Linked DNA regions of Homo sapiens. The protein of the gene in region 1 interacts with the protein of each later gene in a biochemical or structural test. Each region holds a gene or a part of one and is shown on either strand. Other genes may lie near its edges. The genes, in order: LAT, PTPN1, GRB2, FYN, SYK, ITK and PLCG2.

Region 1 (3,233 bases):
ACTGCACTCCAGCCTGGGTGACAGAGTGAGACCTTGTGTTAAAAAAAAAAAAAAAAGATAAAATAGCTAAGATTCACCGAGGGCCTCCTGCATGCCTTGCTAAGAGTCTGACATGTGTTCACTCACTAATCTGACTGCCCTGGGGCTCCCGGGCCTGCCCGCGCCCTCCTGTGCTCCAGTTGTCCCTTTTGTGGGATACAGGGTTTATCTGTTTAACAGCACTGCTGTGTGACAGGCCCTATTTTACAGAGGAGAAAACTGAGGCACAGAGAGGTAAGGTCCCTTGGCTGAGGTTATGTGGTTGGTTAGTGCTGGAGCTGGGATTGAACCGGGGCGGTCTTCAAAAACAAACAAGAAACACATAAAAGAACCAAATAGGCCGGGCACGGTGGCTCACACCTGTAATCCCAGCACTTTGGGAGGCCAAGGTGGGGGGATCACCTGAGGTCAGGAGTTCGAGACTGACCTGGCCAACATGGCGAAACCCAGTCTCTACTAAAAATACCAAAATTAGCAGGGCGTGGTGGCGGGCACCTGTAATCCCAGCTACTCAGGAGGCTGAGGCAGGAGAATTGCTAGAACCGGGAGGCAGAGGTTGCAGTGGGCCAAGATCACCCCACTGCCCTCCAGCCCTCTAGGTGACAGAGGGAGACTCCATCTCAAAAATAAATAAATAAACAAAATAAAAGAACCAAATAACCAGGCGTGGTAGCTGATGCCTGTGATCCCAGCACTTTGGGAGGCTGAGGCAGGTGGGTCACTTGAACCCAGGAGTTCAAGACCAGCCTGGGCAGCATAGGGAGACCCTATCTCTACAAAAATTCCAAAATTTAGCCTGGCCTGGTAGGAGCTGAGGTGGGAAGATCATCTGAGCCCAGGAGGTCAAGGTTGCGGTGAGCCGAGATTGCACCACTGCACTCCAGCCTGGGTAACAGAGCGAGACCCTGTCTCAAGAAAAACAAAAACAAACAAAAAGCTCCCAAATAACATGGATGGTGACAGGCGCCATGAAGGGCTGACATGGGAGTGAGACATAGGCAGTGGCTGGCAGGGGGCAGGTGGGGATGGGGGTCGGGGGGAGGAGGTGCCTGCTGGGCCTAGTGTGTCATGTCCCCTCCACACACGCCACCAAACTCCCACTGCTCCGAGCCGCACTACATCCCTGCTCCCCAGCCTAGGGGCTGTGCTGGGGCCTGACCCTTTGTGAGCTCTCCTCAGTCCCAGTCAAGTGGACCTCCTCCCTCCCTCTCCACAGCCCTTGCCCTTGTCCAGGCCACCATCACCATCACCAACACCATCCTTGCCAGCCTGGAGTCCCCTCTCTTCATTCTGTGGGGCTAATGGGGGTGGCTGTGTGGGAAGCCTCTGGGGTCTACCGTTGGGGAGCTCTGCATGGCTGAGGTTGGGGGTTCTCTGGGAACCTGTGGCCAAGGGTCTCTGGTCACAGTGCCGAGGTGGGCCTGGCTTTTCCACAGTGGAGTCCATTGATGATTACGTGAACGTTCCGGAGAGCGGGGAGAGCGCAGAAGCGTCTCTGGGTGAGTGACCGGTGCTTGTCGGTGCCTGCCCCTGCACCCCGCTGCCCCACCATGCTCTCAGTGTGACCAGATCCCACCCTGGGGCTACCCACACCCTCTGCCCCCTCTGTCTGGGCGTCCCCTTGCTCTCTCGCCCTCCTGACCCCTTTGCGTGGCTGCCCCTCCTTCTGATCTGTCCCCACAGATGGCAGCCGGGAGTATGTGAATGTGTCCCAGGAACTGCATCCTGGAGCGGCTAAGACTGAGCCTGGTGTGTTCTGCGGGAGGGGCAGGAGCTGGGGTAGCTGCTTTGGGCTTGGGGGGATAGCTTGCAAGCTGGAGACCAACCTCCCCTCCCTTACAGCCGCCCTGAGTTCCCAGGAGGCAGAGGAAGTGGAGGAAGAGGGGGCTCCAGATTACGAGAATCTGCAGGAGCTGAACTGAGGGCCTGGTGAGAGGCCTGCCCTGTCCCCACCCTGCCCTGGGCCCACAGGCTCTACTCCTTCCCTCCAGGACCCCCTTGCCCAACCCTACCTCTGGCTTGTCCCTCTGTCTCTGGGTACCTGCTGAACCCCGTCAGCCTCCTGATCCGTATCCCTCCCTGCCCTGGTGTGTTTCAGTGGAGGCCGAGTCTGTCCTGGAACCAGGCTTGCCTGGGACGGCTGAGCTGGGCAGCTGGAAGTGGCTCTGGGGTCCTCACATGGCGTCCTGCCCTTGCTCCAGCCTGACAACAGCCTGAGAAATCCCCCCGTAACTTATTATCACTTTGGGGTTCGGCCTGTGTCCCCCGAACGCTCTGCACCTTCTGACGCAGCCTGAGAATGACCTGCCCTGGCCCCAGCCCTACTCTGTGTAATAGAATAAAGGCCTGCGTGTGTCTGTGTTGAGCGTGCGTCTGTGTGTGCCTGTGTGCGAGTCTGAGTCAGAGATTTGGAGATGTCTCTGTGTGTTTGTGTGTATCTGTGGGTCTCCATCCTCCATGGGGGCTCAGCCAGGTGCTGTGACACCCCCCTTCTGAATGAAGCCTTCTGACCTGGGCTGGCACTGCTGGGGGTGAGGACACATTGCCCCATGAGACAGTCCCAGAACACGGCAGCTGCTGGCTGTGACAATGGTTTCACCATCCTTAGACCAAGGGATGGGACCTGATGACCTGGGAGGACTCTCTTAGTTCTTACCTTTTGTGGTTCTCAATAAAACAGAACTTAAAAAATTGTCTAAGTAACTGAAAAAGTTAATATGCAGCACAGCACTTTTGAGACTTTGATGGGTAGGTGACTCACCGGCAGACTTTGCTGTGGGGTGGGTTCTGACTCAGTTCGCCTAGGACGTGGCCTGAGACTTTGCATTTCTGAGCCTCTCCTGTGTGATTCTGATGCTGCTGTTCTGTGAACCTCATCCTGAGGAGCAAGGGCGTGGTGAGCATCTATTGCCTTTACTTGTCCGGGATCCATTTCCCCTTATTTTGGGAATTTCACCTTGGCTTTCCTCTGCAATTCACTCCTTTCCCAATCTCATTCCATGTAGTTTTAGAGATTGTGTGTTTGTTTTTTCTTTTTCCTTTTTTTTTTTTTTCTTTTTTTGAGATGGGGTCTCCCTCTGTCGCCAGGCTGGAGTGCAGTGGCGTGATCTTGGCTCACTGCAACCTCCGCCTCCTGGGTTCAAACAATTCTCCTGCCTCAGCCTCCTGAGTAGCTGGGATTACAGGCCCCCACT
Region 2 (3,500 bases), on another chromosome or scaffold:
TTATATATTATAGCATTGTTCTATCTTCTCACGTTACCCACAATATCACTAAATAACAACTGCTTACAACCGTCCTCCTTCCCAGTACTGGTCTGACGCAGCAGGCCCATGGCAAAGCCTTCCATTCCCAGTACTACCTGAGGATTTATTATTGTACTTTTTGATAAAGCCCTTGATGCAAGGCTGACATCAAAAAATTTTAATACATTATTGGTTCAAGAAAATGCTAGTGCACTATGGATGCCTTTGGGGAAAAAATTGTTTAAATAAATATGGAGTGGAGAGTTGCTCCCTGCAGATTCAAGGGGGGGGCTGTTGGCGTGCCGCCCGCCTGGGATGCTCCAGGAGGGAGCCCTGGGTGGGGCGAGCCCCAAGACGGGTGTAGGCCCCTTCCCTCTGCGCCGCCAGCATGGTACTCTCTTTCACTCTCCTCAAAAAATGGCTTGTGGATTTGGTACTCAAAGTGGAAGGGGCAAAAAGTAAAAGGATGAGGGGTGAGACACACATCCGGGGAAGATGGGTTTTAGTGCAGAACCAACGTCCGTCCGGGGCCCGGCTCTCTACGCGGTCCGGCGGCCCTTACCTACCGCGGCATGCCTGCTAGTCGGGCGTGGGCTCTGCGGGCAGAGGCGGACAGTGGGTGGAGGTGGAGTGGAGGAGGGTCAGGCTATGTGTTGCTGTTGAACAGGAACTGGAATGAAACCAAACAGTTCAGATGAGCCCAGACCCGCACCTGCAGAGCTGTCGCCTCATGCATGACCCCGGCCACACCCCCCGGCAACTTCAACCTCCGAGGGAGCAAAGGGGGTTTTGGTTTTATTTTTTACAGTAGCCCCCTCTCCCCAAAAATCATCCCCAAGGAAAAAATTGTTTGCATTTTGCAAAACCATCTGATGTACTCAGATGCCACCTGGAAAGAGGTAAAATATTTAAAACCACGAAAAAGTCTTAGGAGGTCATTTCCATGGCCAGAGCTCTGAGGCTAGTCCTCTCTCTTCCCCTTACTTAACAGCAACACACGTCTAACGTGTGAATTTCTGCTGAAATGGCACTTCTCCCAATGAGGTGGAGCCCACTTCTCTGAATTAACAGCGGGTTGACATGCCAATGGCCACCCTGTGGTGACCTCTGACCCCCAGGCAGAGGCCTCGAGGACACCCATTTATGGGGATGGGGTGATGAGGGCTGGTACATGAGCAAGATGGCTGTCACAGGAGGGAGCAATGGAGAAAGGACAATGGAAACCCAGCGGGGACACCCTGAGCAGAAGCAGAGGCAGGTTCTGTTTTTCTAGACGGCCTTTTGTTGCTGTTCTTCTTATAGTGGGAAAGCTCAAAGACCCTGTCCTGGCTCAGTGTGCACACAGCTGAGGGGGGCTTGAGCGCAACAGCGTCCTAACCCTCTTCTCCAAGGGAGTTTACATTCGTAAAAGTTTGGGATTCCTTCCCTGGGAAATCAAATATAAATTATATGGCTGATTACATCACCTAAGGGTATGAGAAAGTTTCATAAGTGCCTACTTTGTTTTTTTTTGTTCCAGAAATAACAAAAAGCTGCTTTTTATAAAGGTTAAAAACAACAATGTGTTGTAACTCTATTTTTTTCCAAAAACAAAGGAATAAAAAAAAAAAGAGAGAGAGAAACAGACGTATTTGGCATTTTCTCTACTTACTCCTGAATAGGTTAAGGCCCTGAGATTAGACTCTTATATTCTTGGGACCAGAGGGCTCCTTAAAACCCCAGTGCATCGATCCTTAATTCTCTTGTTAGCCCTTCCACAGTTCCAGACTTTAAAAACCTTTGATCTGTTTCTTCTGAGACTGGCTCAGATGCACCACAGAACTGAATCCTACCATCGGGCTAGCGGCCAGTGCTCTCTGCACACGAGCATCTCGCCAGCGCGTCTGTCAGTGGAAACATACCCTGTAGCAGAGGTAAGCGCCGGCCGTGAGGACCGTAGCCACGCACATGTTGACCAGGAAGGGCTTCCAGTAACTCAGTGCATGGTCCTCGTCCTTCTCGGGCAGTGACGGCTCCCCTTTGGCTGGGGAGGCAGCCTGGGCACCTCGAAGACTTCCCCCCACGACCCGACTTCTAACTTCAGTGTCTTGACTCATGCTGAGGAATCAGAGGGCAGAGATGGGTTACTCACTTTGGAGAAAATGAATGGCAAGGATGCTGCTATTGTGGCAGGAATTCTAGGAAAAAACAAGCCACGTGTAGACAGAGTTGGATGATGTTAACCTTCCAGCGAGCCAGCCCCCTCTGCTTGGAGGGAGGGCCAGGCCAGGGCCCACATCAGCCTGAAGTCCACTTGTCACCCCCTCCCCCAGGTACTTCAGATAGCACCCACACCCAGGGTAGGGTTCACAAGGTGCCTGGGCGACTGGTCACTGTGAGGATTTATCTGGCTGGAGGACTCACTGGTGTACACACTACTGTATGATTTGCCTTCTCATGTACTGCAATTGCAATGTCTGGCCACATCAGTACACCCAGATCTCATTCTTTAAGAGCTACAGAATATCCCAACACCGGGAGAGAACATAATTGATCAGGTCCCTGGTTATATCATTGGCCTGTCTCTAATTTTTCACTACTACAAACAATGCCACAACAAACACAACTACCTATACACATCTTTACACGCTTGTTTTGAGAGTTGCTGCAAAGTAAATTTCTCCATGTATACAACTGCTGGGTCAAGTATGCACACGTCTTAAAACTTCCCTCCAGAAAGCAGGTACCAAGGGCACAGCCGGCAGTCATCTCCAGCTGGAACTAACACCTGCTCATTCTGCAAACTTTCCGTGCACGGCCACCTACTGCAAGCAGCCTTCCCTGACCACCTCAGCGGACACCTCTATCACATCACTGTCCATGGGCCCCCACCAAAATATGCTTTGGGTCTGCCTTTTTCCCAGCAAGATGGTCTAGAACACAGACCAGGGGACATGTTCTAGTTAACTCAGTACACCACACATATCAATAGGTACTCAATAATGGTTGTTAACCTGCAAGGAAGTAAAATGGGATTTAATCAAGACCACATAAAAAAGGTTACATTCCCCAAAGGACCACTGTGGGGACTGAGGGCACTCAAGCCTGGACATCACATTTCAGGACTGTCCGGAAACCTGGGGGAGGGCGCTGTCGTCAGGGGGGGCAGAAAAACCCTACTCGGTGGCTCCGAGCCCCTCATTCCAACAAGCACCACAAGGTGGCACTAGAAGCCCACAGAAGTGGCTCATGTCCTGCGGCCACCCTGTGCCCAATACCGGACCTCCAGCAGCCAGGAGTGGAGTGGCTGTGGTCCACGCGCCCTGTTCCCCAAGGATGCGGAAGCGCTGCTTGCCAACAGGAGGCTGCATCCACAGGGTTTCAGTACCAGCGTGTGTTTCTAGAACAGAAAGTCATTTCCCCTCACCCCAACAAGCTGGGACCCAATCATATTACCTTTCGATGCCGTAGGGTGCGGCATTTAAGGGGCTTCCTTTTTC
Region 3 (3,500 bases), on another chromosome or scaffold:
CCTGGCCAACATGGAGAAATCCCATCTCTACTAAAAATACAAAAGTAGCTGGGCATGATGGTGCATGCCTGTAATCCCAGCTACTCGGGAGGCTGAGGCAGGAGAATCACTTGAACCTGGGAGGCCGAGGTTGTGGTGAGCTGAGATCGCGCCATTGCACTCCAACCTGGGTAACAAGAGTGAAACTCTGTCTCAAAAAAAAAAAAAAAAAGAGTCCATGTGCCCTGAACCCTACCAAATAAAAACAGCCGTACTTAAGACAAAGGAGTGTGACTTAACATCCTTTGAATAAAAAAATAATTAAAATCTTATATGCAGGAAGAAGGTGAGGAGGGCTGGAAATACTTTCAACAATTCTCTCGTAACTGGGAATAGTTCAAAGTAATGTTTTCCATTCAGGAATTTTAGCTCCACTCATGGGGAAAAGGTCTCTGAACAAAAGGACGTACTGGGACAATAAAAGAGGCCCAGACTTCAAAACCCAAAAGCTTCTCCATCACTAGATCACACCCTTTTATACTGGCAAGCAAAACCGGCAACAGCGTGGCTGGCTGGTACTAGCTCACAGGGTCTGTCACAGGATATTTGGCTAAAACACCAGCCTAGCGAGGGCGCTTCTGCCTGTCCTGTTCACCTGGCCGGGCACTCTCGGCATTCTCGGCCGGATGCGGTGGCTCATGCCTGTAATCCCAGCACTTTGGGAGGCCGAGGTGGGCGGATCATAAGGTCAGGATATCGAGACCACCATGGCTAACACAGTGAAACCCCGTCTCTACTAAAAATACAAAAAATTAGCCAGGTGTGGTGGCAGATGCCTGTAGTCACAGCTACTCGGGAGGCTGAGGCAGGAGAATGGTGTGAACCCGGGAGGAGGAGCTTGCAGTGAGCCGAGATTGGGCCACTGTACTCCAGCCTGTGCGACAGAGTGACACTCCATCTCATTAAAAAAAAAAAAAAAAAAAAAGGCATTCTCTGAGAGTGCTTGTTCAATGAATGAATGAGTCCCTCCTCTCCTTCAGTCTTTCAGCTGATGGAAACCAAAGGCTTCAGAAAATCAATCCGGCAGGTGGCAGCACTGAGCCTCAAGGAAGCCACTCAGCACAAGATGCCTCGCATTTGGAAAAAATACTGCTTTACATGTTAAGACAAAATGTGGAAGGTGAGAAAGCTTCATTAGCAAGGGTATATTCCACGGCACTTCTGGCCCCACAGAGGCCCACTTCCACCCATGCAATGCAGGTGGTTTCTAAGAGCCCAGGGCCCCAATAATGAGCAGTGTTTCAAATCACAGGCTCAAAACATCCTAAAACTAAGAAACATCTGACAACTGTTGATTCTTGAACCTTTTTTGCAGAGGTGTGTGTGTTGTTAAAGAGAGTCATGACACCTGCTTTGCTTCTAAAACAATAAATGCATTAAATCCTTAAAAGATTCTACTTGAGAAAATGGAAGTTTGAGAGTTTCTGCTGAGCAAACAGGCAGCGTCCAGCCGAGCACGTGGCTGCCCCCGTGGTTTTGGCCACCACCCAGTGATTTACTGCTTGTTCCCCTCATCTTATAAGGTTTCAGTTACACTTGGGTCAGTATAAAACTAAAGAAAGACAGGTGTCACACATGTTTTTCTTTTCTTTTTTTTTTTTTTTTAAAGATGGATGGAGTCTTGCTCTTTCACCCAGGCTGGAATGCAATGGCTCAGTCTCGGCTCACTGCAACCTCTGCCTCCTAGGTTCAAGTGATTCTCCTGCTTCAGCCTCCGGAGTAGCTGGGAATACAGGCATGTGCCACCACGCCTGGCTAATTTTTGTATTTTTTTAGTAGGGACAGTGTTTCACCATATTGGTCAGGCTGGTCTCAAACTCCTGACCTCATGATCGGCCCGCCTCAGCCTCCTAAAGGGCTGGGATTACAGGCATGAGCCACCATGCCGGGCCACAACTATAAATTTAAAATCTACGTTTCAAAAAAAAAATCTACATTTTAATCACACATTAAGTGGTTCTAAAACCAAATAAGATATTCAGTTTGTTTGTTTGTTTTGGGAGACACAGTCTTACTCTGTCACTCAGGCTGGAGTGTAGTGGCACGATCTTGGCTCATCTGCCTCTCGGGTTCAAGTGATTCTTCTCTCTCAGCCTCCTGAGTAGCTGGGATTACAGGCACACGCCACCACGCCGAGGCCATTTTTGTATTTTTTTTTTTTTTTTTTTTTTTAGTAGAGACAGGGTTTTACCATGTTCGCCAGGCTGGTCTCGAACTTCTGACCTCAGGTGATCTGCCTGCCTCGGCCTCCCAAAGTGCTGGGATTACAGGTGTGAGCCACCGCACCCAGTTTTTTTTTTTTTTTTTTTTTTTTTTTTGGAGACAGAGTTTTGCTCTTCGCCCAGGCTAAAGTGCAATGGCGCCATCTCGCCTCACTACAACCTCCGCCTCCTGGATTCAAATGATTCTCTGGCCTCAGCCTCCCAAGTAGCTGGGACTACAGGTGTGTGCCACTATGCCTGGGTTATTTTCTATTTTTAGCAGAAACAGGGTTTCACCATGTTGGCCAGGCTGGTCAGTTCATTTTTGAAATGGAAAAGTCTCACGCTTTACATCAGTTATAAATGGGAAATGGTGGCTGGAAGCAGTGGCTCCAGCCTGTAATCCCAGCACTTTGGGAGGTCGAGGTGGGTGGATCACCTGAGGTCAGGAGTTCAAGACCAGCCTGGCCAATATGGCAAAACCCCATCTCTACTAAAAATACAAAAATAAGCCGGGCGTGGTGTCAGGCACCTGTAATCCCAGGTACTCGGAGGGTGGGGCAGGGAGAACTGCTTGAACCTGGGAGGTGGAGGTTGCAGTGAGCTGAGGCATGCCATTGGACTCCAGCCTGGGGGACAGAGCGAGACTCTGTCTCAAAAATAAGTAAATAAAATAAAAGGAAAATGGTTTTCTATCCCCCATTCAAAAACAAAACAATCTTAATGTAATCTAAACTAAGTAGTGATCTGAGTGTTGAATCTAATTACTTCTTTATATATAACTGATGAAGTGATCTGCCGGACTCCTGGGGAGGGTCCTATGATAATACATTAACTAGAAAATAACTGAAAGTAAAAAACATGGAAATAACAATTTAATTCAAAATCCCGACTTCACAGCTGAGGTGTGAATTGTTTAGAATCTTCAAGTGCTGGTTTCTATTCTCCACACTCTCCATGGCGGCAGAACTTCCTGTCTTCTCCATTCCCTGCTTACCCGCTCCCTTTCACACCTGAACTTTCCACCGGGGAAATGCAAGCCCCACATCCCCTGCAGCAGCCTTCTTAAGTGACTGTGAGGGCCTAGGATGGGGCTGGTTGATTTAAGTCAGTGGACCTGAGCAAGGCAAGCCAAGGCAGCCGACAGGCGCTCCACTATCCCATTAGAGAGAGCTGCGGGAATCCCTTGGAGGGCAGAAGCTCAGGAGTGCTGGGCACTAGGGAAAACTGGCAGGCTCCAGCTGGCTGCAGGGAGCTGCT
Region 4 (3,500 bases), on another chromosome or scaffold:
CAGGTGTAACAAATAGGCCTGCAAATATATAATGGCTCAAAAGCAATAGACGTTTATTCTTGCTCATTTAATAGTCAAAAATTCATGTTTCTGGTCGGTAGGTGGCTTTCCTCCATGCAGTGACTCTGGGTCCCACACCCCTATCTTGTAGCTCCACCATCCCATAGCTTATCATCGTAACCTGTTTCAGTTTACAGAAGGGGCAACAGAGAGTAGACGGGGCACACCCACTTTTAAAATACCTTAGCCTGGAAGTGCCACCATCACTTCCTCTCACATTCTTTACTTGAGGGCTAGTTATATGGCCACATTTAATTGCAAGGGAGCCTGGGAAATGTAGTTTAGCCATGTGCTCAGAAAAAAGATACAGAATAAATGTATTTTTATTGAACAGCTTTGTCAAACACTGCCACTTATCAAGGCACATTCACTGCCCTCAAGAAACTTATAGGCTAATGGGAATTAAATAGAAACCTAGAGCGGACACCCGTCATTGCTTTTCTTTTGATTTTATAAGTTTAGATCTTTTCATCCTAAGCATGTTTCAAAAATCTTACTTTTTGTCATGTTTCAAATTTTATGTTTCAAATGTTGCCAATTCCTACTCAATAATCCCATGTGATACAATCATCTGATGCTTCCTGTGTTGACTTTGATGTGGTTCTTTTACTCCAAAAGCACCTTTCTTGGCTTCATTTTTCATCTGGTCATTCTGTAGACTCCCAAAGTTGCTAGGAGAGTCCTTAGAAATCACACTCCTTCTGGATGTTGCAGCTCACGCCTGTAATCCCAGCACTTTGGGAGGCTGAGGTGGGTGGATCACTTTAGCCCAAGAGTTTGTTATCAGCCTGGGCAACATAGTGAGACCTCGTCTCCACGAAAAATCTTTTAAAAACTATCCAGGCATGGTAGCATGCATCTGTGGTCCCAGCTACTCAAGAGGCTGAGGTGGGAGGATCACTTGAGCCTGGGAGGTAGAGACTGCAGTGAGCTGAGGTCATACCACTGTACTCTAGCCTGGGCTCCAGAGTGAGACCCTATCTCAAAAAGAAAAACAGAAATCACAGTCCCACTCCCTCTTAATTGGAAGAGGAAATTAATTAGCCTGAGAGGTGAAACTCCTTGCCCCAAGGCCTTGCAGCTTCTTAACGGAAGGGCAGGAGGCTCAGCCAGCCAGCTCTTCAGGCCCACATGGGTCTCCTCTGTCACTCAGCTGCCCTCTTTGTCTGTGAGTCTTGCATATTCCACGGAGGTTAAGTGAGCTTCCAAATCTCCATGAGCAGGGTTCTAGTGTTCTGGGTAGTCCCTGTTCTCCACAGGCTTCCAAATTGTTGGAGCAATTCCATTCATACCAGCCATCATAATTGTTAATGCACTTTTTTTTGCCATGAATACTTCATTATATTCATCTGTTCTGCAGACATTAGCCTAGTATGTTACTTTGTGCAAGGCACTGGGGAGATGAGGTCCTGGAAATGAATACTTCTGCTGTCCTTGCTTTTCAGAAGTTCACGGTCTACTAGAAGAGATAAAAATAATTAATAATTGTTAACATTTGTTGAGCATTTACTATATGCCAAGCACTGTTTAAGCTCCGATCTTAACAATAATAATATGAAGTGGTTTCACTTATAATCTCCGTTTTACAGATGGGAAATTGAAGCAAACTTTAGTAGCTTGTTAAGTAACTAATTCAAGATCATACAGCTACTAAGTGGTAGAGTCAGGATTCAGGTCCAATTAGTTTGGTTCCAAAGCCTTTGCCCTTAGCCACTAGGTAATATTCAAAATACTACATATAATGATGATATTAAAATACGTTATGTGCCATAAGGGAGGGTGACTGAAATGCTTTAGAAACTAAGACTTTTGGTTGATGAGAAATATAATTTTATAGCCAAATAGAAATACAATATTCATCCCTACCCTCCTTCCATTCAGACACTTATCTACTACTTACCTGGGAAATACAAAATTAAATTAAACAATGGTAAAGCAAGGCATGTCGATACTGGAAATAATTTTACTCTGTGTGATTATTTAAAGCTGGGTCTTTCTGTGGTACACAATTAGGTCTGTATAAGTTTATGAATTGTCTACATACTTACTCATTTAACAGCATTCATTCATTGCGTATTCTATTTGCCAGACAATTAATTCGATGGTTCAAGGCAAAAGAGATGTGATCCTGTCCCGAAGGAACTTACTTGCTAGTTTTGCAGAGCTATAAAGGAGTCTCTGACCAATGTTAGAAATGCTGGGATTTTAGGGGTCCATGTAGGATGGCAGAGAGTGTGCAGAATGGAGCATGAACCTGGAAAAGAGGTGGGCAAGTGGGATAGCCAAGCAGAGAAGGCTGGAAGAGGAGGGGTCTGAAGGCAAGATGAGTAGAGATGGCTAGGTGAGTGTTGTGGGAAGCTCCCTGTCCCAGAAAGAACAGCCCAGAGGGCGAATGCACAGACCTTTTGGGGAACTGCAGTTAGTTCAGGGCTGTTTGGAGTGGTACAGAGATGGACAAAGGGAAATGACAGAGCTGAAGGAGAAACTGAGAAAGATTCTTGTACGTACTTTATCCTGAGTGCCATTTAAGAGTTGTAAGTGGAGATGTGGCTTTGATGTGATTGTATTTTTATAAAGATCTGGCCACAGTATGGGCCTTTGACCGAGGGCAGGCAGAACTAATGCAGGGAAGGTAGTTATGGAAACTTAAATGAGTAGTAGATGAGGGTCTAAATGGAAGGAAAGGAGGTGCAGATGGAGCAAAAAAGAATTAGAGAGCAGTAGACAGGGTGTAGGGGTAGGTAGAAAAGAATTTCTCTGGGAAATTAGGTAGAGACAAGCAGTCCAATAAGGAAAGCAGGGGGCAGGTATCTAAGCGATGACTTTATCTTAAACACTTTAGACTTCCAGGTGTAGTAGCTCATAGGCAGGTAAATAGAGAGGTCTGGAGTGAGGGAAGAGGACTAGGTCTTTTTTTTTTTTTTTTTTTTTTTTCCCGAGACGGAGTTTCGCTCTTGTTGCCCAGGCTAGAGTGCAATGGCGTGATCTCAGCTCACTGCAACCTCCACCTCCCAGGTTCAAGCGATTCTCCTGCCTCAGCCTCCCGAGTAGCTGGGATTACAGGCACCCAACGCCACACCCGGCTAATTATTGGGGTTTCGCCACGTTGGCCAGGCTGGTCTCGAACTTCTGATTGCAGGGGATCTACCTACCTCAGCTTCCCAAAGTGCTGAGATAATAGGCATGAGCCACTGCTCCCAGCCAGGACTAGGTCTTGAATATAAATTCGTTAGCAAACAAATTACAAAAATTGAAGCCATGGATGTGGGTGAGGTCACCCAGGGAGAATGTGTGGAGTAGAAAGAGCAGAAAGGGCAGAGAGCAAGCCCAGGAACAGAGGAGGAGTCAGGCCCAGAATGGGAGAGGAGCCTGCGGAGTACTAGACCAGCTTCAGAGTTGAGCAACATAAAGAACAAAAAATGCAGTTGGATTTAGCACTG
Region 5 (3,500 bases), on another chromosome or scaffold:
ATCATTCTGTCTTACTCCAAGTGAGTTTCTTCATCTCAACAACAGCTTTAGATGAGAAGAACACAATTACTCCCTTGATGGATGTAATCAATTAGCAGTGATTGGTATTTTCAGAAGTCATCACTCATGAGAACATAAGGTCAGCCAAACAGATAAGACTTAACTGTCACCTCTTAGAAAAGCATTTATTTAAAATGTTTCTTTAAAAAGAAAGTGTTCTTCCCAGTGAGAAAGGAGATTCCATGTCAAGATATTCTGAGGCTGAGTCTATCACTAGGCCAAGACTGAATGACTACAGGAAGAAAAAAAAGACAAAACTGTCAAATGAGTTCTTCTCTGAACAACTAGAGCTAACAGAGCTGAATCCAAAGACTATGTCTCCCTGTCCCTCTGTCAAGGTCCCTGAGTATGGACCAATAAAGGAAGGCACAGGAGGGTGGGAAGGCTTCCCAAGGAAATCAGGCTGCTCGGCCCATCCAGGGGTGGGCCCTGTCCCTTAGGGGATAGCTTCCAGATGTGTGGGGGCACCTGACAATACCTGTTCTGCTGCAAATACTTATTGAGGGGACCAAGTTCTGCCATCTCCATAACCAGCATCCAGGACTCGGCCTCGCATATCCCGATCATCCGCACGATGTACGGGTTGTCCAGCTGCTGCATGACATTTGCTTCTGCTAATAACTCATCTTTAAGAGCGGGGTCATTGGCCTCGTTTTTCAGTATTTTCACAGCCACGGTTTTCACAACTCTGCAAGAGAAATCATAACACACAAGAAACTTTCCAAAATGCCTCACTTCTAGATAATCTTATCCTGTGAAGCATAATCCCCCTGTGGAAACAGTCCCACGGAAATACCTGCCACAGAGTGGCAATGTGTCTTCAGAAGCCTGTAATGGATGGCTGGCCTTCCAACCTATATTCCCTTATTTTATAGACAATGAGAGTAATACTCCATTACTAAAAAAGAATGGTGGGGGCTGGGCATGGTGGCTCATGCTGACAATCCCCATACTTTGGGAGGTTGAAAGGGGAGGATTGCTTGAGGTCAGAAGTTCAAGGTCAGCCTGGGCAACATAGTGAGACCCCCATCTCTAAAAAAAATCACCCAGGTGTGACAGTGCAAGCCTGTAGTCCCAGCTGCTCGGGAGGCTGAGGTGGGAGAATCACTTGGACTCAGGAGTTCAAGGCTGCAGTGAGCTTCTTGCCACTTCACTCCAGCCTGGGTGACACAGTGAAACACTGTTTCTAAAAAATAATATAAAATAAAAAGAATGGTGAAGAACAGTACTGAAGAATGTCCCAACCAAGCAAAAACCCTAAACTGTAAAATATTTAAATAACTTGTAAATAAACTTCACCAACGATGACATGTACGAATTCCTGTAACATCTTGGGATTCACCATCTCAGATTACATGTAATGAATGTGAATATAAAATGCCTTTCATAATTGTTGAAAGTGAATTTCTAGGTGCAGAATTTAAAAGCATATATTTCAATGTAATACATTGAAAAGGTAAACAACTCTCCTGAGAGAGGCTGAAGAAGACCTGGTAAATGGAGAGATGGGCTGTGTTTATAGATTGAAAGACTCAGTATTGTAAAGACATCATTTTGCCCCAAATTGACCGAGAGAGCCTCTCCTCTCCCCAAATTCTCTAGTTGAAATTATGTCCACAGTCATGTCTATGTTAATTCACAAATTTAAGCACAGAATAAAGATCACAACCTTTCATAATCTGAAAAAGCTTAGGATTAATACAGAAACATTTTTACTCATTGTACAAAATGACTGTGATATACAAACATATATTTTAAAATAAGTATCACAGCCAATTTTGATTGTGTGTGTATATATGTGCGCATGTATATACTTGTGAATGTATACATATGTGTGTATGTTTGTGTGTGTATACATACATGTATGTGTATCTAATTTACACACACACACATGCACAAAAACAAATCGAAGGGACAGATTGGAAAGCAAGCATTTCTTTTTTCTTTCTTTCTTTTTTTTTTTTTTTTTTTGAGGCAGAGTTTCACTCTTGTTGCCCAGGCTGGAGTGCAATGGTGTGATCTTGGCTGGCTGCAACCTCTTCCTCCCAGGTTCAAGTGATTCTCCTGCCTCAGCCTCCTAAGTAGTTGGGACTACAGGTGTATGCCACCACACCCAGCTAATTTTTTGTATTTTTAGTGGAGACGAGGTTTTACCATGTTGGCCAGGATGGTCTTGAACTCCAGACCTCAGGTGATCCACCTACCTTGGCCTCCCAAAGTGCTGGGATTATAGGCATGAGCCACGGCACCCGGCCGGAAAGCACGCATGTCTGTGTATATTTTTGTCTATATTTTTAACCCTTGAATCATAAAAATTACCTACTCACGAATTTTTTTTTTACAAAAATCCCTTACATTTGAAATACCATGAAGCTACTAAATCTAACCACATTCATATTAGTATCATACCAATTCAAACAGAGGGTGTATTTCAAAGGACTTTAGAAACCAGTAGTTTTACTTGTACATTCTATGTTGGGTACCTTCTAAAGACCAAAAGAAATACAAAGATATTTTCGAAATTTAGCAATTTTAACTGTTGTATAATATGTATTGTTATCTGAAATCATAGGATAAAGCCAATAAATAATTATACTAATCATATTTGGAATCAATAATTTTCATGTAAGAAAAATGAGATGTAACTATAAAATTAAAGAAAATAAATGTAAAAACTATTGTTATAATGGAATGATTTTGTTTTAATTAAATAATATCTGTGTGTACAAATAAAGATCTAAAAATATATACAATAAGATTAAGTTAACAGTAGTAATGTTTAGTTAACAGTAGTAGTGTTGGGATGGTATTATACAAATATGATGTTCTTCTTTTCTTTTTTTTGTTTTGTTTTTTGAAACAGGGCCTTGCTTTGTTACCCAGGCTAGAGTGCAGTGGTGCAATCATGGCTCACTGCAGCCTTGGCTTCTTGGCCTCTTGAGCAGCTGGAAGTATATGTGTGCACTACTATGTCTGGCTAATTTTTTATGTTTTATTTATTTATTTATTTATTTATTTTTTTTGTAGAGACAGGGTCTTGCTATGTTGCCCAGGCTGGTCTCAAGCTCCAGGCCTCAAACAATCCTCCTATCCCAGCCTCCCAAATTGCTAAGATTACAGGCATGAGCCACCATGCCAATTTGATGTTTTTATTTTCTTATGTTTCTGCTTGTTTCTATTTCCTAATTTTCCATAAGGTGCATGTACTATTAGGTTGGTGCAAAAGTAATTGCAGTTTTTGCCATTAAAGGTAATGGACGCTTTCATTATAATAGTACCAGAAATTAACAAGAATGGTAGCATTAATAAAAAAAGGGTTTAGTCATGCCAGGTTACATTTTGTTATTCTCAGTCATGTCTAGAACCTGAGCTCATGTGAGGGTGAGGCTGGTGGAACATAGCAACTTACTTTTTCATTTGGTAGTAGCCCTTTTTCACAG
Region 6 (3,500 bases), on another chromosome or scaffold:
ACCTCCCCATCAAATACTACTGGGCCTGTGTCTCATTTCCTTGGAAACTTGCTAGCTGTATTTCCCTGATAACTAATTCACATGATGGTATTTGTGATTTATAATGATGTTACATGTTACCTATTTCTAAGGATCCTTGTGCTTGGAGAATGGATCTCAGGGGATTTGATGCTTTAGCCAATGGAACAAATTCCATTGGTGGTCTATCAGGCTCCAAGGAAAGATAGTTAGGAAAGTGCTTCTGGATGGAAGAAGCCTCTCACAGGTACCTAGAATTGAGCTGCCATTGAGAATTCAGCTATGGAATTCAGCTATGGAACCAGTTGCAAAATACGTCATTATACCCACTACCAATCAATCCCAAAAGACACGATTCTGAATGTCATAGTCCTGAATGCTGAAATCCTGAATGATAAAAATCCCTGAAGTCTAAGTCCTTAACATCTAAAATCTCAAAAATCACGATTAGTGAATTTTCTGTTGTACACAGGATAGCCTCATTATGTTAGTTGCATCTTGTTAGGCAGAACTATTACTTTGTTATTGTCTTCATTTGGAAATTACGTGTGGTTTAAGATATGTATGGGTGCCAAATAGACAAGGGATGGACTTGTAGACTTAATTTTAGGTGTCAAATTGACTGGATTAAGGAGTATCTAAGGCTGGACATGGTGGCTCACGCCTGTAATCCTAGCCCTTTGGGAGGCCGACACGGGAAGATCACCTGAGATCAGGAGTTCGAGACAGCCTGCCCAACATGGTGAAACCCCACCTCTACTAAAAATACAAAAATTAGCCAGGTGTGGTGGCGGGCGCCTATAATCCCAGCTACTCTGGAGGCTGAGGCAGGAGAATGGCGTGAATCCGGGAGGCGGAGCTTGCAGTGAGTGGAGACCGCACCATTGCACTCCAGCCTGGGCGACAGAGCAAGACTCAAAAAAAAAAAAAAAAAAAAAAAAAAAGAGACGTATCTAGATACGTGATAAAGCATTATTTTGGGGTGTGTCTGTGAGGGTGTTTCCAGAGTAGACTAGTATGTGTATCAGAATGGGCGAGGTGGGGGAGATCTGCCCTCAGTGTTGGTGGACACCATTGAATCAGCCAGGGACCCTAAGAGAACAAATACTGAAGGCAAATTAGTCTGTCTCTGAGAGTTGGGACAGAATTTTCTTCTGCTGTTTTTGATTAATCTCATTAAAAGACTTAGGTTGTCTATCATAGCATTTCAGATGACCATGGTTATATAAGCTGTTTCTTTTTTAAAAAAATTTAAAGGTGAAATATATTGCATATTAGTTTTTTTGTTTTAAAAATCAGCTTTATTAAAGTATAATTTACATATAATAAAATTTACCAATGTACATTTCAGTGAGTTTTGACAAATGTATACATTTGTGTCATAATCTCTGTAATTAAGATACAGGAAAAGAAATAACCAAAATCAGAGCTGAACCAAAGGAGATTGAGACACAAAAAATTATTCAAAAGATCAATGAATCCAAGGGTTGGTTTTTTGAAAAAATTAATAGGATAGATAGGCCACTAGCTATACTCATAAAGAAGAAAAGAAGGAAGATCCAATTAAACACAACTAGAAATGACAAAGAGGATGTTACCACTAACCCCACAGAAATACAAATAATCAGAGACTACTATGAACACCTCTATGCACACATATTAGAAAACCTAGAAAAATGAATCCATTCCTGGACAACATACACCCTCCCAAGACTGAACCAGGAGGAAATTAATTCCCTGAACAAATCCATAACAAACTCCCAAATTGAATCAGTAATAAATAGCCTACCACCCAAAAAAAGCCTGGGACCAGATGGATTCACAGCCGAATTCTACCAGATGTACAAAGAAGAGCCAATGTAATTCCTACTGAAACCATTCCAAGAAATTGAGGAGGAGCGTCTCCCCCACAACTTATTCTATGAGGCCAGCATCATCCTGATACCAAAACCTGGCAGAGATACAACAAAAAAGAAAACTTCAGGCCAATATTGATGAACATCGAAGCAAAAATTCTCAAGAAAATACTTGCAAACCAAATCCAGCAGCACATCGAAAAGCTAATCCAGCCAGGCGTGGTGGCTCATGCCTGTAATCCTAGCACTTTGGGAGGCTGAGGAGGGTGGATCACTTGAGCCCAGGGGTTCGAGACCAGCCTGGGAAACGTGGTGAAACTCTGTTTCTACAAAAAATTACAAAAATTAACTGGATATGGTGGTGCACACCTGTAGTCCCAGCTTCTCGGGAGGCTGAGGTGGACAGAAGTTGCAGTGAGCCAAGATCATGACACTGCACTCCAGCATAGGTGACAGAGCAATACTGACTCAAAAAAAAAAAAAAAAAAAAGGCTAATCCTTTTTTACATGATCAAGTAGGCTTTAGGAATGCAAGGTTGGTTCAACATATGCAAATCAATAAATGTAATTCATCACGTAAATAGAACTAAAGGCAGAAATCACGATTATCTCAATAGATGCAGAAAAGGCTTTCAATAAAATTCAACATTGCTTCATGTTAAAAACTATCAATAAACTAGATATTAAAGGAACGTACGTCAAAATAATAAGAGCCATCTATGACAAACTACAGCCAACATCATACTGAATGGGCGAAAGCTGAAGGCGTTCCCCTTGAATACCAGCTATTTCTTTAGGAATATAGTTTGTCTGCTCATAACTGTTATACCCATGTGACTGTCCTTAGTATACTTGGGTGTTTATGTTTGCAAAAATATGTATATTATTATTGCCTATTTTATTGCACAAGGTGGCCTATGAAGCATTTCGTCATGTCTTCATATGTTTCTCAAATAAATCCACTTTAAAATGTAAACAAATGTCTTTTAAAAAAGTTTTTAAAATTATTTTTTCCAGAATTATATTTTTGGGTATTTTTACATTTTGTATTTCAATATTTGGGATTATGGTGTTCAGGATTGTGGCCCAAACCCCATTCTACCTTATTTTTTTAAGGAGGTAGCAAATGATGGTGAAATGAGCACACGTTTGGGAAAGCTATGTTTAAAGTAGGTCTCTGCCTCTTACTATAAGAGCTCTGTGACTTTGGGCAATTCATTAAACTTCCCAGAACCCTGGTTTTTACATCTGATAAGTGGGGATAATACCTACCTTTTGAGAGTTGATTGGGGAATAAAATAGGATGATGTCAACAAATTAACTGGCTTATAACAGATGCCCTCAATAAAGGGTATCTTCCCAATTAAAGAAGTTAAGGAAGCCTTAACTATCGCAAGAGATTTGTGATATATGAGCGTGCTTGGTTGATATCCAGGGACCCATTACATCATCAAATTCTCCCAAAGTGAATTCAGTCTTTACTTCCTGTTTTTGGGTCCTCAGCCCGGAAGCTGATCTTTGATTTAGTAGCTGAGGAACAGAACTGAGATAAAAAAAATTCAAGATGCGAGAAGCAGACCCTATCAAATACAGGAAAGCTTTGTGGTGTCTGGTTTTTAGTTTTTT
Region 7 (3,500 bases), about 53 Mb from region 1:
GGAAATACAAAAATTAGCCAGGCCCAGTGGCGTGCGCCTATAATACCAGCTACTCAGGAGGCTGAGGCACAAGAATCTCTTGAACCTGGGAGGCAGAGGTTGCAGTGAGCTGAGATCGTGCCATTGCACTCCAGCCTGGGAGACAGAGCGAGACCCGGTCTCAAAATTAATTAATTAATTAATTAATTAATTAGCTGGGCACAGTGGCACACACCTGCAGTCCCAGATAGGAGGCTGAGGTGGGAGGATCACTTGAGCCCAGGAGCTCGAGGCTGCTGCGAGACGTGATTGTTCCACTGCACTCCAGCCTGGGCAACAGAGCAACACCTTGTCTCAAAAAATTGATTCATCTTCATCCACCCAAGCAGCCCAAACCTGAAAAGCCAGGCTCCCAGGGAGGCACAGTTATTGCCACGTGTCTCAGAAAATCGAAGACGGAGATCACAGCAGGAGTTTCACAAGGTTTTGGGTTGTTTTCGGGTTATTTCTTAAGATAAGAAATAGCAAGTTTTAAGAGGCAATCCATAGGAAAATGTGACAGAAAAAGTGAAAAAAAAAGTTGCTATAAGTAATACGGCCTCCTCGGAAATGGACATTTTTGCAGCTTTCTGCCTAAAAATTGTTTTTTCTTTATTCCCAGAATTTGTTGACCCTTCGCAAGACCTACCTTGATACTCATTTCACTAGATAAAAAAAATCAGCGGGAGACTCTTATAATCATTGTTTCCTTGTTCATTTTCAGAACAAACAGGAAGGAGCTCTGAAAGGTAAGAGAATATCCCCAGGCCAAAATGACCCTCTGAAAATCAAAGCCCAAAGTCTCGGGGCTATGAAGACAAAGTAGAAGAAAGGGAAAAGAGAAAAGGGGAGGAAAGAAAGAAAAGAGAAAAGGACACAGGTCATGGTGCCAGGAATTTGGAAACTGGCCACCTCGGCAATTTTGAGATGCCGGTGGGCTGGGGAGAGGGTGTCCTGGGGGACTGGCCCGGCTGAACCACCAGGCCAGCTTCTCTGCCTGGTGGAGCTAACCCGACCACCGCCTGCCTCCTGCTCCACCCTCAGACACGTACGGCTTGGACTCGTGGGGGTTGGGGTTGGGCACAGGGTCCGTGAGCCGCAGCTCGAACTCGGCGCAGCGCAGGTGCGTCTCGCGGTAGTGCTGGATGAGGGCATAGATGCTGCTGAAGGTGAGGTTGTCAGTCAAGTAGTATTTCAGGGTCCCGCCCTCCATGGTGGAGCGGATCCGGCAGTGCTGGACCCGGCCTGACCGCCTGCGGGGAGAGGACGCCATCAGTGCTGGGAGAACGCAGGCCAGGCCATTGCGGCAGCCAGGGCCTCAGAGGCGGGGACATTACATGTGGCCACACAACCTTCCCTCTGCTCCTAGAACAGACACAGGAGGCTGGGCGCAGTGGCTCATGCCTGTAATCCCAGCACTTTGGGAGGCCGAGACGGGTGGATCACCTGAGATTAGGAGTTCCAGACCAGCCTGGCCAATACAGTGAAATCTCGTCTCTACTAAAAATACAAAAATTAGCTGGGCATGGTGGTGCATGCCTGTAATCCCAGCTACTTGGGAGGCTGAGGCAAGAGAATCACTTGTACCTGGGAGACGAAGGTTGCAGTGAGCCGAGATCACGCCACTGCACTCCAGCCTGGGCGACAGAGCGAGACTCCATCTCAACAACAACAACAACAAAACCAGATGCAGGGCCTTAGTATAGGCTAGACCCTCAGCCTGGATTCCAGAACATTCTACCTACTTCCCCCACCCCACCCCACCCCATCCCCCTTTTATATATATAACTGCTTCTCTAGAGCCAGGATGCCTGGATTCAAATCCCAGCTCTGCCACATATGAACCAAGTGTCCTGGAGCAGGTCACCCGTGCTGTCTGAGCCACACTGTATTACTACCCCAGCGGTCTGACAGGAATGATAACAGTATCCACCTCAAAGAGGCATCCTGAAGAGTAAACGAGACCACACACACAAGGTGTCTCGAATACTGCCCAGCACATGGTAAGCATCATTTAGGTGTCCAGGATTATTTGCGTGTTATTAGTATTCTAATTTTCAGCCAGGTGCAATGGCTTACAGCTGTAATCCTAGCACTTCAGGAGGCCGAAGCCAGAGGATTGCTTGAGCTGAGTTCAAAACCAGCCTGGGCAACGTAGTGAGACTCCAGCTCTACAAAAAATTTAAAAGTTATTCAGGTGTCGTGGCATGTGCCTGTAGTCCCAGCTACTTAAATGGCTGAGATAGGAGGGTTGCTTGAGCCCAGGAGTTTGAGGCTGCAGTGACTGAGACTGCTCCATTGTACTACAGCCTAGGCAACAGAGCAAGACCCTATCACAATTTTTTTTTAAGTGACAGAATTATAATTTCCCTCTTTCAGGTCTCATCTTCTTTCAGGAAGGTTTTCCTAACCATTCCCCACGTCAGGGCATCAGAGCCTTCCTCACAGACTTTCACAAATCCCCCCAACTCACATTAAACCCCCCCAATAAAGGGAGGGATGTCCCTTTATGTTGCCTTGTTTCATTGCACTCATCACAACTATACTTGCAAATCATTTGAGTGACTGCTTTTTCATTGCCCATCTCCTTCAAAAGACGCTAGTGTCCAGGAGGACAAAGACATTGTCTGTCTGGCATAAGTACTGTGTCTAGCACAGGGCACGCCCTCAAGAAGTATCTTTTAATGCACTGAGACATGGATAAGTGGGTGGATGAATGAATGCACAAGCTCATCACAGCCTATGACGGCTTCAAAAGGACAGCCCTAGAGTCCTCGTTTTATGGAGGAGACAGAGATGCTAGAAGGTTGGCTGAATCATCCAGAGCCACATGACCCACTCCAGGGCTGGGATCGGGGAAAGTGAGTGAGACCACATCATCTAAGAGTAGGGTCAGATCTTGTCTTTGTTTAAAATGTTCATATTTTGTTCATCACAGACTTTTTTGCATTACTTTTGATTTTTTAAAAGATTGCCCTGAAATCTCATTAATCTGGGTTACAGTGCCGAAGTGAGTCATACCCACCTCACCCTTGTCCCGGCCTAGAAGAGCTAGACAAATGAAGCCTGGGATTCAGGTCCCAGCCTGCCCAATTCCTGCCTGAGCTAGAACCACTCGCCACCCTGCCTCATCGGTTGGCATGGAGAAGAAGGTAGGCGTTCCCTGGGTCGGGGGCATTACCAGAAGGACAGGGTGTAGTCATTGGGGAAGGTCTCGCTCTCCCGAACCAGGAAGGTGCCATCCTTGCCCCCCGTCTCCATGCAGTATTCCTGCAGCAACTTCTCGGCACTCGTCCTCTTCTCCACCTTCTTGTGGAACCATTTCTCCCCAAAATGTAGTTCTGTAGGGGGTATATCCTGGGCCGCAAAGAGAGGAGGGGTTTCTGAAAGCCTTGGACCAAACCCCAGCATCACTAGACAGGTCCTTCTGTCTCACCCTGACCCAGGGTACCAGATAACATAGAGAGGCCAGCCTCAGCTGG

What was found.
Region 2: of the proteins of LAT (region 1) and PTPN1, one has a biochemical effect on the other in vitro, tested with the Homo sapiens proteins (one study listed by BioGRID and IntAct).
Region 3: the proteins of LAT (region 1) and GRB2 form a complex in vitro, tested with the Homo sapiens proteins (3 studies listed by BioGRID and IntAct, with this or other methods).
Region 4: of the proteins of LAT (region 1) and FYN, one has a biochemical effect on the other in vitro, tested with the Homo sapiens proteins (one study listed by BioGRID and IntAct).
Region 5: of the proteins of LAT (region 1) and SYK, one has a biochemical effect on the other in vitro, tested with the Homo sapiens proteins (one study listed by BioGRID).
Region 6: of the proteins of LAT (region 1) and ITK, one has a biochemical effect on the other in vitro, tested with the Homo sapiens proteins (one study listed by BioGRID).
Region 7: the proteins of LAT (region 1) and PLCG2 interact in a biophysical measurement, tested with the Homo sapiens proteins (one study listed by IntAct).

The regions. Positions count from the first base shown.
Region 1 is NC_000016.10:28,988,052-28,991,284, forward strand, and holds the end of LAT (linker for activation of T-cells family member 1), read left to right. Parts: intron 1-1,475; coding exon 1,476-1,538; intron 1,539-1,722; coding exon 1,723-1,788; intron 1,789-1,881; coding exon 1,882-1,961; 3' UTR 1,962-1,968; intron 1,969-2,137; 3' UTR 2,138-2,733; downstream 2,734-3,233. UniProt on the Homo sapiens protein: Required for TCR (T-cell antigen receptor)- and pre-TCR-mediated signaling, both in mature T-cells and during their development.
Region 2 is NC_000020.11:50,579,883-50,583,382, reverse strand, and holds part of PTPN1 (tyrosine-protein phosphatase non-receptor type 1), read right to left. Parts: coding exon 3,457-3,500; intron 2,119-3,456; coding exon 1,923-2,118; intron 692-1,922; coding exon 668-691; 3' UTR 1-667. UniProt on the Homo sapiens protein: Tyrosine-protein phosphatase which acts as a regulator of endoplasmic reticulum unfolded protein response. Mediates dephosphorylation of EIF2AK3/PERK; inactivating the protein kinase activity of EIF2AK3/PERK.
Region 3 is NC_000017.11:75,322,179-75,325,678, forward strand, and holds part of GRB2 (growth factor receptor-bound protein 2), read right to left. Parts: intron 1-3,500. UniProt on the Homo sapiens protein: Non-enzymatic adapter protein that plays a pivotal role in precisely regulated signaling cascades from cell surface receptors to cellular responses, including signaling transduction and gene expression.
Region 4 is NC_000006.12:111,866,953-111,870,452, reverse strand, and holds part of FYN (tyrosine-protein kinase Fyn), read left to right. Parts: intron 1-3,500. UniProt on the Homo sapiens protein: Non-receptor tyrosine-protein kinase that plays a role in many biological processes including regulation of cell growth and survival, cell adhesion, integrin-mediated signaling, cytoskeletal remodeling, cell motility, immune response and axon guidance.
Region 5 is NC_000009.12:90,874,819-90,878,318, reverse strand, and holds part of SYK (tyrosine-protein kinase SYK), read right to left. Parts: coding exon 3,470-3,500; intron 749-3,469; coding exon 539-748; intron 1-538. UniProt on the Homo sapiens protein: Non-receptor tyrosine kinase which mediates signal transduction downstream of a variety of transmembrane receptors including classical immunoreceptors like the B-cell receptor (BCR).
Region 6 is NC_000005.10:157,204,840-157,208,339, reverse strand, and holds part of ITK (tyrosine-protein kinase ITK/TSK), read right to left. Parts: intron 1-3,500. UniProt on the Homo sapiens protein: Tyrosine kinase that plays an essential role in regulation of the adaptive immune response. Regulates the development, function and differentiation of conventional T-cells and nonconventional NKT-cells.
Region 7 is NC_000016.10:81,908,291-81,911,790, reverse strand, and holds part of PLCG2 (1-phosphatidylinositol 4,5-bisphosphate phosphodiesterase gamma-2), read right to left. Parts: intron 3,376-3,500; coding exon 3,200-3,375; intron 1,272-3,199; coding exon 1,071-1,271; intron 1-1,070. UniProt on the Homo sapiens protein: The production of the second messenger molecules diacylglycerol (DAG) and inositol 1,4,5-trisphosphate (IP3) is mediated by activated phosphatidylinositol-specific phospholipase C enzymes. It is a crucial enzyme in transmembrane signaling.